Linked DNA regions of Homo sapiens. The protein of the gene in region 1 interacts with the protein of each later gene in a pairwise test. Each region holds a gene or a part of one and is shown on either strand. Other genes may lie near its edges.

Region 1 (5,395 bases):
TATTCTGTGTTTCAGAGAGATTTTCAAAATTGATGAATAATATAGTTCAATTTATAATTGGGATGTATATTATTGTCAGAGTATTTGAGCTACAAGAAGGCAAAGGAAAACACCTAATATTTACTCTAAATTGTTGCATAGTTTATGTACACATTCTTCATGAGAACGAAATTAAAAAGACAAAGCTCAGCAAAAATGTCGTATCTTTAATATGATGATATAAAGTTTAAAAAATAATATTGCTAAAGTATATAAAATTTGTAGAATCTAAAATAGAAAATGTGAACCAAAATTATTTTTATGAAAAGATGTGATTTTATTTCTATGCATTTTTTGATACTTTGTTTACTGTCACAATTCCACAATAATTGGAAATAAAATTTAAATTTCTAGACAAGAATATTACTCAAATATTTCTCATAGATGAAAGGTCCTAAAAATTAATATCTAGGAATAAATATTAATCATTGTTGAACTGTGTGAAATTTCACTGGAAAAAAATTGAATCATGATTTTCTGAAAAGGTGTATTAATATAAAAATGTTCTTACCAAATCAAATGATTATCTTGTAATAACATGCAGTTATTCATTTTTATAACAGTTCAAAATTTAGAGATAGTATTAAACTGTTAACAATACAAGTTTTTACAAATATACTTTAAGCAACATACATGTCATTTTGCAACTGCACTTCCTACTATTCATAATTACATCTTTCAGCACTGGGTGTTAGCACTCGGCTGTTGCAAACAGCCAAGCCATATACAGTTAATTTAATTAGAAAAGATAAGTGTTTAAAGAATATTGTTAAGCTCAGATCTCCAGGAGAATTATAGAACAAGGCTTGCAGATGAAGCGGACAGGGACCAAGACCAACTCTCATGCCACAAAACTGGTCCCATGAAGACCCCACTGCCTGTAACCTCCTCTGTCTGTTGCCTCTACACTCTCCTGGTAATATGTGTCTGGCAAGCAAACGTATTCAAATTAGCAAATTTGAGCGGAAATTGACATTATAGCTCAAAATATTTCTGGGGAATACATGCAGCCAGGAACACTGATGAGAAAGCCATCAAAATCTTCCTGTAAGCACACTATTTCGGCCACCATTAAGGTAGAGACATCACAGCGGGACCTCAAGATCACCAATACGGGACAGTGAGTGGTGTCACTAAGCACCAGAGGCCACCGCTGCCTCTGGAAACAAGTTGTCTTTATTGCTGCTGCTTCTCGCTTAGGTATGGATTCTAGATGCTGTCTATTGCCTTGCGGTATTGGCTTGGCTTAAAAGTCTAGGTGGCCACCTCTGATGCACTATTCCTAAGTCAAGTGTCTGTACCCTCATTGCAAAGGAAACCCTGGTAGAGACTTACTGGCATTTTTATAATCTATGCACAGGTGTAGACTCTGTTTCATTTGGCAGTGAATTGCCAAAACACAAAATAGACACTGGAGAGTCAAAAAATGGTAAAGGTTTATTGAATATTCCATGAGTGACAGTTAATAAAGTAACAAAATAAGCTTGATTTTCAAATATTTACAAATATTACATTAAATAGTATTAACCAGATTTGCATGTCAATGTATTCATTGAGGAATATATATATATATACTTTATATATATAATTTCTTAAATATGTAAAGTAGAAATCTGTGTCTTTCATACATATATAAAAAATAATATCCTTTGTAGCATTTTTAATTTGCTGAAGCTTCTAACCTGGATTTTAAATCTCATTAAGAAAAAAATTGAACATTTAATGAAGCATGCTACTTTTCTTACATAGAAAATAAATTAAGAAGACAAAATGGGCTGGGCGCAGTGGCTCACGCCTGTAATCCTAGCACTTTGGGAAGCCAAGGCGGTTAGATCACTTGAGGCCAGGAGTTTGAGACCAGCCTGGGCAATATGGCAAAACCCCGTCTCTACTAAAAATAAAAAAATAAAAAATTAGCCAGGCGTGGTGGCACAGCCTGTAATTCCAGCTACTTGGGAGGCTGAGGTGGGAGGATGGCTTGAGCCCAGGAGGCTGAGATTGCAGTGAGCTTACATTGCACCACTGCACTTCAGCCTGGGCAACAGAGCGAGACTGTCTCAAAAAGTAAAGAAAAGAAAAAAAAGATAAAATGATAAAATGGAAAGGGAGGACTGAAGCTCAGCTTAAAGGACACAGAACAAACATTTTACAAGTGATAAAGGAGGTCTCTGCAGTGAAATTTGAAAACTGATTCTGAAGTTTGGGACAGTTCAAATTATTTTATCTCAGTCTCTGTTACTTGAGATTTGGTATTGCCAAACCTCAGCTTCCCAAATGTTTAGGTACACATAGGCCTATAAGAGGATCAGCTTTCCTGGCCTTACTCCAAATTTTCTACCTGGGAAGTCTTTATGAAAGTCAACAGAAATATATAAATTCTCAGTATATGAGAAACTTTTATACACTGGATAATTATTCATAAAACTGAACAGTACTCAGAGTGCAAAGAAAACTATAAAGTTTCATCTATTTGATGAGGAGGTTCTAGTCAAGGACAATGGAAAAAAATGAGTCCCTGAGTTTTCTGAGTTGATTTCTGTGCACTAGTCAAGAAGAGAATTTTCCCACTAGATGGGAATGCAGAAAAAAATACATTCACATCTCAGTCGAAGCCACCCACTCACTGATATTCCAGGAAGAAGAATTTAAAAGATTAGATGGATTTATAAGTAATAGCATATCCTATATTCTTGGAAAATGTTCTCTTGTGATAGAAAAAAAGACTGATTGCCTCATGCGGATTGCATGCAAATGTTGATTCATGGACACAGGAACCATGACTCATCACGTCCGTGGGATTGTTTCTTAAAAGAGGAGAGTAGGAAGACAAAGCCATGGAAAGCTTCCTTTTTTCTCTTATTCTTTGGCCTGTCTATGGATTATAGACTGAAGTCACTGAGAACTGCAGAATGTACTTACTCTGAGAATTGTTCATTTATTCCAAGAAAGTAAAAAGTATATGTTGTGTATATGTATATGGATAAGCGTGTTAAGACAGAACATGCATATCTTTAAAACTGACACCTTAGAATAGAAGTTTACATCTAGAAAAACACAGCTCTGCATTGCTCCTATTAGACTGCACTGGGGAAGTAATATTGTATGTGGGCTGGAGAGAAGTCTATAATTACCAAAAAGTTAAATGCTTCAAGAAGTAAAACCACGGAGATTAGAATGTGACTGAAATGTATAGGGCTAGATAAAATTGTCACTATGTGTACGAGCCTAAAAATTAAATTCATTTTTATTCTGTTTTCTACTAATGTTGGTTGCCTCTATTAGGAATTTACACTTGGTAGAGTAATAAATATTTATTCTGTACATAGATACTTGTATGATCACAATCTACTAATCTAGTGAAATACAGATGAAGAATCTGAAAAAGGGAATTGGTGGCACTAGTAAATTTCAGAGGGACTAATGAGAAACTTCTGGCAGAAAGTAAGTGGTAAAGAACTTACTGTATTTGTGAATGGCTAGCATGCATATTTATCCCTATTTCAGTCCATTCAAGCCAGGAAAATTAAAACTGTTATATAATATATACTTATATAATACATTGTGTGTATATATGCATACATATCCTTCTTGCTTTTCTGGTTCTGCCTATTAAGATTTTTATAACTAAGAGATAAAAAATAATTATTTTTAGATTTTGGAACCTTATTTATATATTAGATATTCCACATTGTGCTAATAAAATTGTAAGCTGATTGCATAGAAACGAAAATCCATATTGAACATTTCATATTACTATTCTCTTTCCCAGATGTTATTTGTTCTTGATCTTTATGAGAATTCACTGAGAAAGGCTATGACAGACTGTATTTTGCAAAGATCGTTGCCACAATGACTGCATCCCACACACCCTTATTATAAAATTGTTTTCACACTCCTTCCATTGAAAGTGCCTCTCTCTCTTTAATCTGAGTCAGACTTTGAGATTCTCACCACCGATAAGTGGGTCTGACTTTTGAGGCAGAATCATTCAAATGGCGTTTTCTTCTCTCTGTGTTCTTAAGATGTTCACTTGCAACCTAGCCCCAATGTTGTGAGGAAGCCAAGCACCCCCTTAAATAGCCCCAGTGCAGGTGTCCCAACTGAGGCATAGATGAAAACCGAGATGGACTGCCAGATATGAGTGAAAGAGGCTGCAGCCCCCAGCCTTCCATGCATTGCCAGCCTTTGAGCCCTTGCAACTGAAGGCACAAGTGAGAGATACAATGTCCATGCCAAGCCATGCTCGCGATTCTTGAACAGAAGACAGGGTGGTTGCTGTTGATATGTTTTAATGATAATTACTTGGAAAAGTTTGTTTCAAGATAATAGATAACTGGAACATAACAGCACTACAGCTATTTTCACAAAGGGGCAACAGCCAACATCACATAGCTAGAAGACATCAGACCAAAGATGAATATCCAGGCCAATTAAGCAAAAGCCTGATGCCCTTAATGGTCCATGTATAAGACTACTTTTTCTGTAATAAATATCTCACAAAATTGTGATTTTTCCACTATTAATATTAACATATTTATTCATTTTTACTGACCAAGTCCAAGATGCTGTCAAACTTAAATAATACACTGGATATTTTAACCTTGTACATTAAGAATTCATATACAATTAAAGTGAATCTACCAGAGAAGATAAAAACATAGTCATGATAAAAGTCAACTTAAAAGAATGGAAAACACTAACAAGTTATAAACTACATTTTAAAATTCAACATATGAATATATATCAAACTAATTTCTTTAAATCCTAAAACTTAATGACTAAACATGGATAAAATACATTATCAAATGACCAATCTATCTGTATTAACAATTTTAAGTGATTTGAAACTTAGACTTGGTTAAGGGAGACAATGATTAGCACTTACTCTCTTTCCTTCCATAAGATTTTTTGGAATTCATCCAAATGCACCTGCAAAGCTGAAATTTCAGTTACTTCATTTTCCAAAGGCAGATTTATTGCTTTCAGTCTCAGCCCAGTTTTCGTTTCACCGTTTCCAGAACCACCATTGTTGAATAAATCAACACCATCTAGATTGGGCTTCATCTCCTCACTTAATTTTAGAGAATCAATAACCACACCTTGTTCCTGAAGACAAAACAAAACAAAACATATTTAAACCTCCTGGAGAAAAATCATGATGACAAAACATTTTCATAAAGAAATAAATGTTACGATACCACAACCAATTCATATTTTTATTTCATTATCATTCCCTGAAAGTGTTGTGTGGCCACACTTACTTGCATTCTTCTTTGAGCTTGTTTTTTTCTATGTTCTACTTTCTCATAAAAAAAATACATTTCTCAAAAGTTCTGCTTTAACTCTTGTTTGTTCT
Region 2 (3,500 bases), on another chromosome or scaffold:
ACAGATTAGAGGTTGCCAATGTTCAGGGAAGGGGATGTGTAGCTATAGAGGGATTGCATGAAGGAGTTTTTTAGTGGTGGAAGAGTTCTGTATCTTGATTATTGTGATGGTGACATGAATCTACACATATGATTCTCTCAAAAATCTACACATCTGATTTCTCTCTTGTAAAACTCTCCTACTGCTGTCAGTTACCATCTAAAATTACAACTCTAATCATGTCCCTACTCTTCTCAGAAGCCTTCAATAGTTCCTGTTTATAGAATAAAAGTTCAAACTCTTAACATGGCATTCAAGGTCAGCCATTAGCTCACCCCAAGCTATATTTTCCATTTTAACTTTCATTATGATCCCATCTCACCCCCACTACTGGACTATTACTTATAGGTCCCTGGAAAAACCAACAATTCCCTCAGACTATAACACATTTTTCCTCATCTCAGTCTGTCAATATTTAATTCTTCAAGGCTTCCTTTAATATTGCTCTTGAATTACCTTTCACATATTCCTTTGTCTACACAGCACCACAACACTTTGTTTAAACCTCTATTAATCTTCTATTATACTGTTTTATACTTATATATTTATCTGTTTCTCACAAATTCCTGTCTTATCTTTTTATCACCTAGAGATACCAGTCTATGTACATCAAGATGTAAGAGTTGAATGAACTATGTCCAGGACATGGAGAAACAGTGTGATGGGAAGCAGATCTCTCATAGAGGCTTCTTGAAATCTGATCCTACTTTCAGCAACTTTAGCACTCCCTCCATCTTTAAAAAGAGACATCATTATTTGCATACCCCGTGAACTTGGGATTTGAACTAAGTACTTCCATAAAATGATTCTGCTGTTAATTACTCTCTTCTCTTCCAGTAGTTACCTTTTCTTTCCTTCATTTCTTTTATCTTCTCCCTGTACCTTCACTATTTTTATAATAAATAGGTAAACTGAAAAAAGTTCCATTAACCCATCAGAGAAAGGATGCCATAAAACATACATACTGGGCAGTATGTGTTCCACTGGCAAATTACTTATAGTGATTTTTCTATTTGGCTTTGTAGCTGTGAATCTCATTGCACAAATAAGACACAAAACAAATATTTAGGAAAGGAAAGAGCCAAAATAAGTCATATTGGGGAAATATTGTTCGTTATTGTAGTTTGAAAATTCTTTAAAATGAAAAAATTATGAAAAATACAGCCCAAGTATTGAACATTAATTTTTATTTACGTAATAAAAGAGTAGCCAAAGTTAAGTTTACTGTTCTCTCCATTATTTTATCCACAAGCTAAGCATATGGCAGTGGCCAGAATTCCCAAATAGCATCTCCTGTCCCCCACAACAAATGGCACAGAGAACACTCACTCCATTCATATCTGAATAAATAGTAATAATGGCCATCAAAACCATAATTCCACAATCATAAGATTAAAAGGGATTAAAAACTTTTTTCATACCATTATATATAATTAAGAAGGGTTACTTGAATAGCATACATTCAAAACATCAATCCATCTAAACAAAATATTGGTCTATAAAGTACTAACTCTCCAATCCTTACTTTTGGGCAAATTCACAAGAAATAAGCATAGAAATTACATATAACAATAAATTCCCTATATAAATGACTTTACAGACTTAACAGGTCTATAAGAAAAACCTTATTTTTTATTGTCTATATATTACATAAAACTGCTTTCAGGATTTATTATGTTGTCAGTATCTACTGTGTTGTTTACTGCCTCTTTTATAAACTATCACAAAATATGTTTCTCCAGAAGTTTAAAACTAGAAAAATGTTAATCTTTCTAGAAAAACTGGAGTGCTTCCTGTTATTTCACAAAGATAGCTATACTGTCCATTATATGTTCCTTTTTGCTTTGGTTGTCAAGCAAACTCAGAGCTAAATTTTGTACATGACTGCTGCTACTTTTTTTAACCTGAATCTTATGAAATTTTCTGTCCTTATACCCCAAACCATCATCCATTACTTGACACGCATTATTGCATGTCTTTTATTTTATATCTTCAAATCCTTTTTGGAAAGGGGTAGGTATAAGGATTAAGAGGTTATATAAATAAGTATTAGCAGTATTTTTGTTTGGGAAAAAATTTTATATGCACACCTTTGAAGATTTCTTCTTTTCCTTGGAGTGCTTTAGATTTGAAACTGAAGACATTATAATTTTACTGATTTCAAGTCCAGTTTGAAGCTGTAATATTTAAAAAAAAGGTTATAACATTGATTTGTAACATGCAAAAACACTGTAATGAGATATCAGGTCTAAGTTTATAAATATAAAAATGCTTTTTGGAGAAGAAAAGAAAAGAAAATCCAAGATACCGTTTTTGTACATGTGAAGGTCACTAAGTCTATTGGTAATTACAATAATTTTCTGTTTATAAAAGAATAAATTATTTAATATATGTACAGAAATCAAACTGAAAACAATCTATCCTAGGAGTTCCTTCAACTGAGAATATATGTATTTGTCAGAATTTCAAAAGATTAAAAAAGACCTCTTGGTAATACATCCATGTATCATACTGGCTGACTGAGAATTTCATTATTGTAACGAAAAGACAATTTAGGAAGCAGAAATTAGAATCTAGAACATAGGCTTCAGTTAATGAAAATAAAAATATAATAAAACATATATGGTTTACTGTGATAGATTATATAGTGCTATATTTACCTCAGAAGCTTTGTCTTGAAATAGCTTACGCTGATGTTCTTCTTCCTTAAGTTTTTCTTCTAAATGTTTAATCTTGTCCTGCAAAAGAGTAAAAACTAAGATTGTTACATAAAAACTAGAGCCAAATATCATTTGTTTCTTTTCCAAATAGAGTCCTAGGGGGTCTTGATTCTTAAGAGTTTGGCAAATTAAGGCAGAAAATAAGAAAAAGGAATGGCACAAGATGTTAAGATTTTTCTTGGCTTTCTTCCCACTTCTTTCTTTGCTTCTTTACCTTCTATTACATACAAGAAGAACAAAGGGAAAGCAAAGAATATACACACACACAGGCTTTATTAACTTCCAGCAACAAAATCATTATGATGAAACTTTTAAGGGTACTAAAGGTGTAGCAGGTCAAACAATTATAGTCTTGGGTCTCAACGTTTCATTCAAAACATAAAAAAAAAATTCTACTATTTGCATATATGTGATAAGAGTGTACTTTTGGGAGAAGAGTGAAAAGACATAATAGAAATATACAATGTGGTCCTTGTTACTTAAGAGCTTATACAGATTGAGGATCCCTTATCTTAAGTGTTTGGAACCAGAGATATTTTAGATTTTGGAATATTTTCATTACTGGTTCGGTATCCCTAATCCAAAAATTCAAAATCCTATATGCTCCAGTGAACATTTCTTCTGAACATTATTATTAGTGTTCAAAAAGTTTTGGATTTTGGAGTATATCAGATTTTGGATTTTTGGATTAAGGACACCCAACCTGTATTGTATGAAAAGAAAAAAAGAGCAATATTCATA

The links. The genes of interacting proteins can lie anywhere in the genome.
Region 2: the proteins of CCDC102B (region 1) and CEP57L1 interact in binary tests that used the Homo sapiens proteins (3 or more experiments, as listed by UniProt).

Annotation. Positions count from the first base shown.
Region 1 is NC_000018.10:68,838,456-68,843,850, reverse strand, and holds part of CCDC102B (coiled-coil domain-containing protein 102B), read right to left. Parts: intron 5,146-5,395; coding exon 4,925-5,145; intron 1-4,924. UniProt on the Homo sapiens protein: During interphase, forms fibers at the proximal ends of centrioles to maintain centrosome cohesion. During mitosis, dissociates from the centrosome following phosphorylation to allow centrosome separation. Contributes to CROCC/rootletin filament formation.
Region 2 is NC_000006.12:109,154,507-109,158,006, reverse strand, and holds part of CEP57L1 (centrosomal protein CEP57L1), read right to left. Parts: intron 2,778-3,500; coding exon 2,700-2,777; intron 2,217-2,699; coding exon 2,130-2,216; coding exon of another isoform or gene 2,118-2,129; exon of another isoform or gene 1,210-2,117; intron 1-1,209. UniProt on the Homo sapiens protein: Centrosomal protein which may be required for microtubule attachment to centrosomes.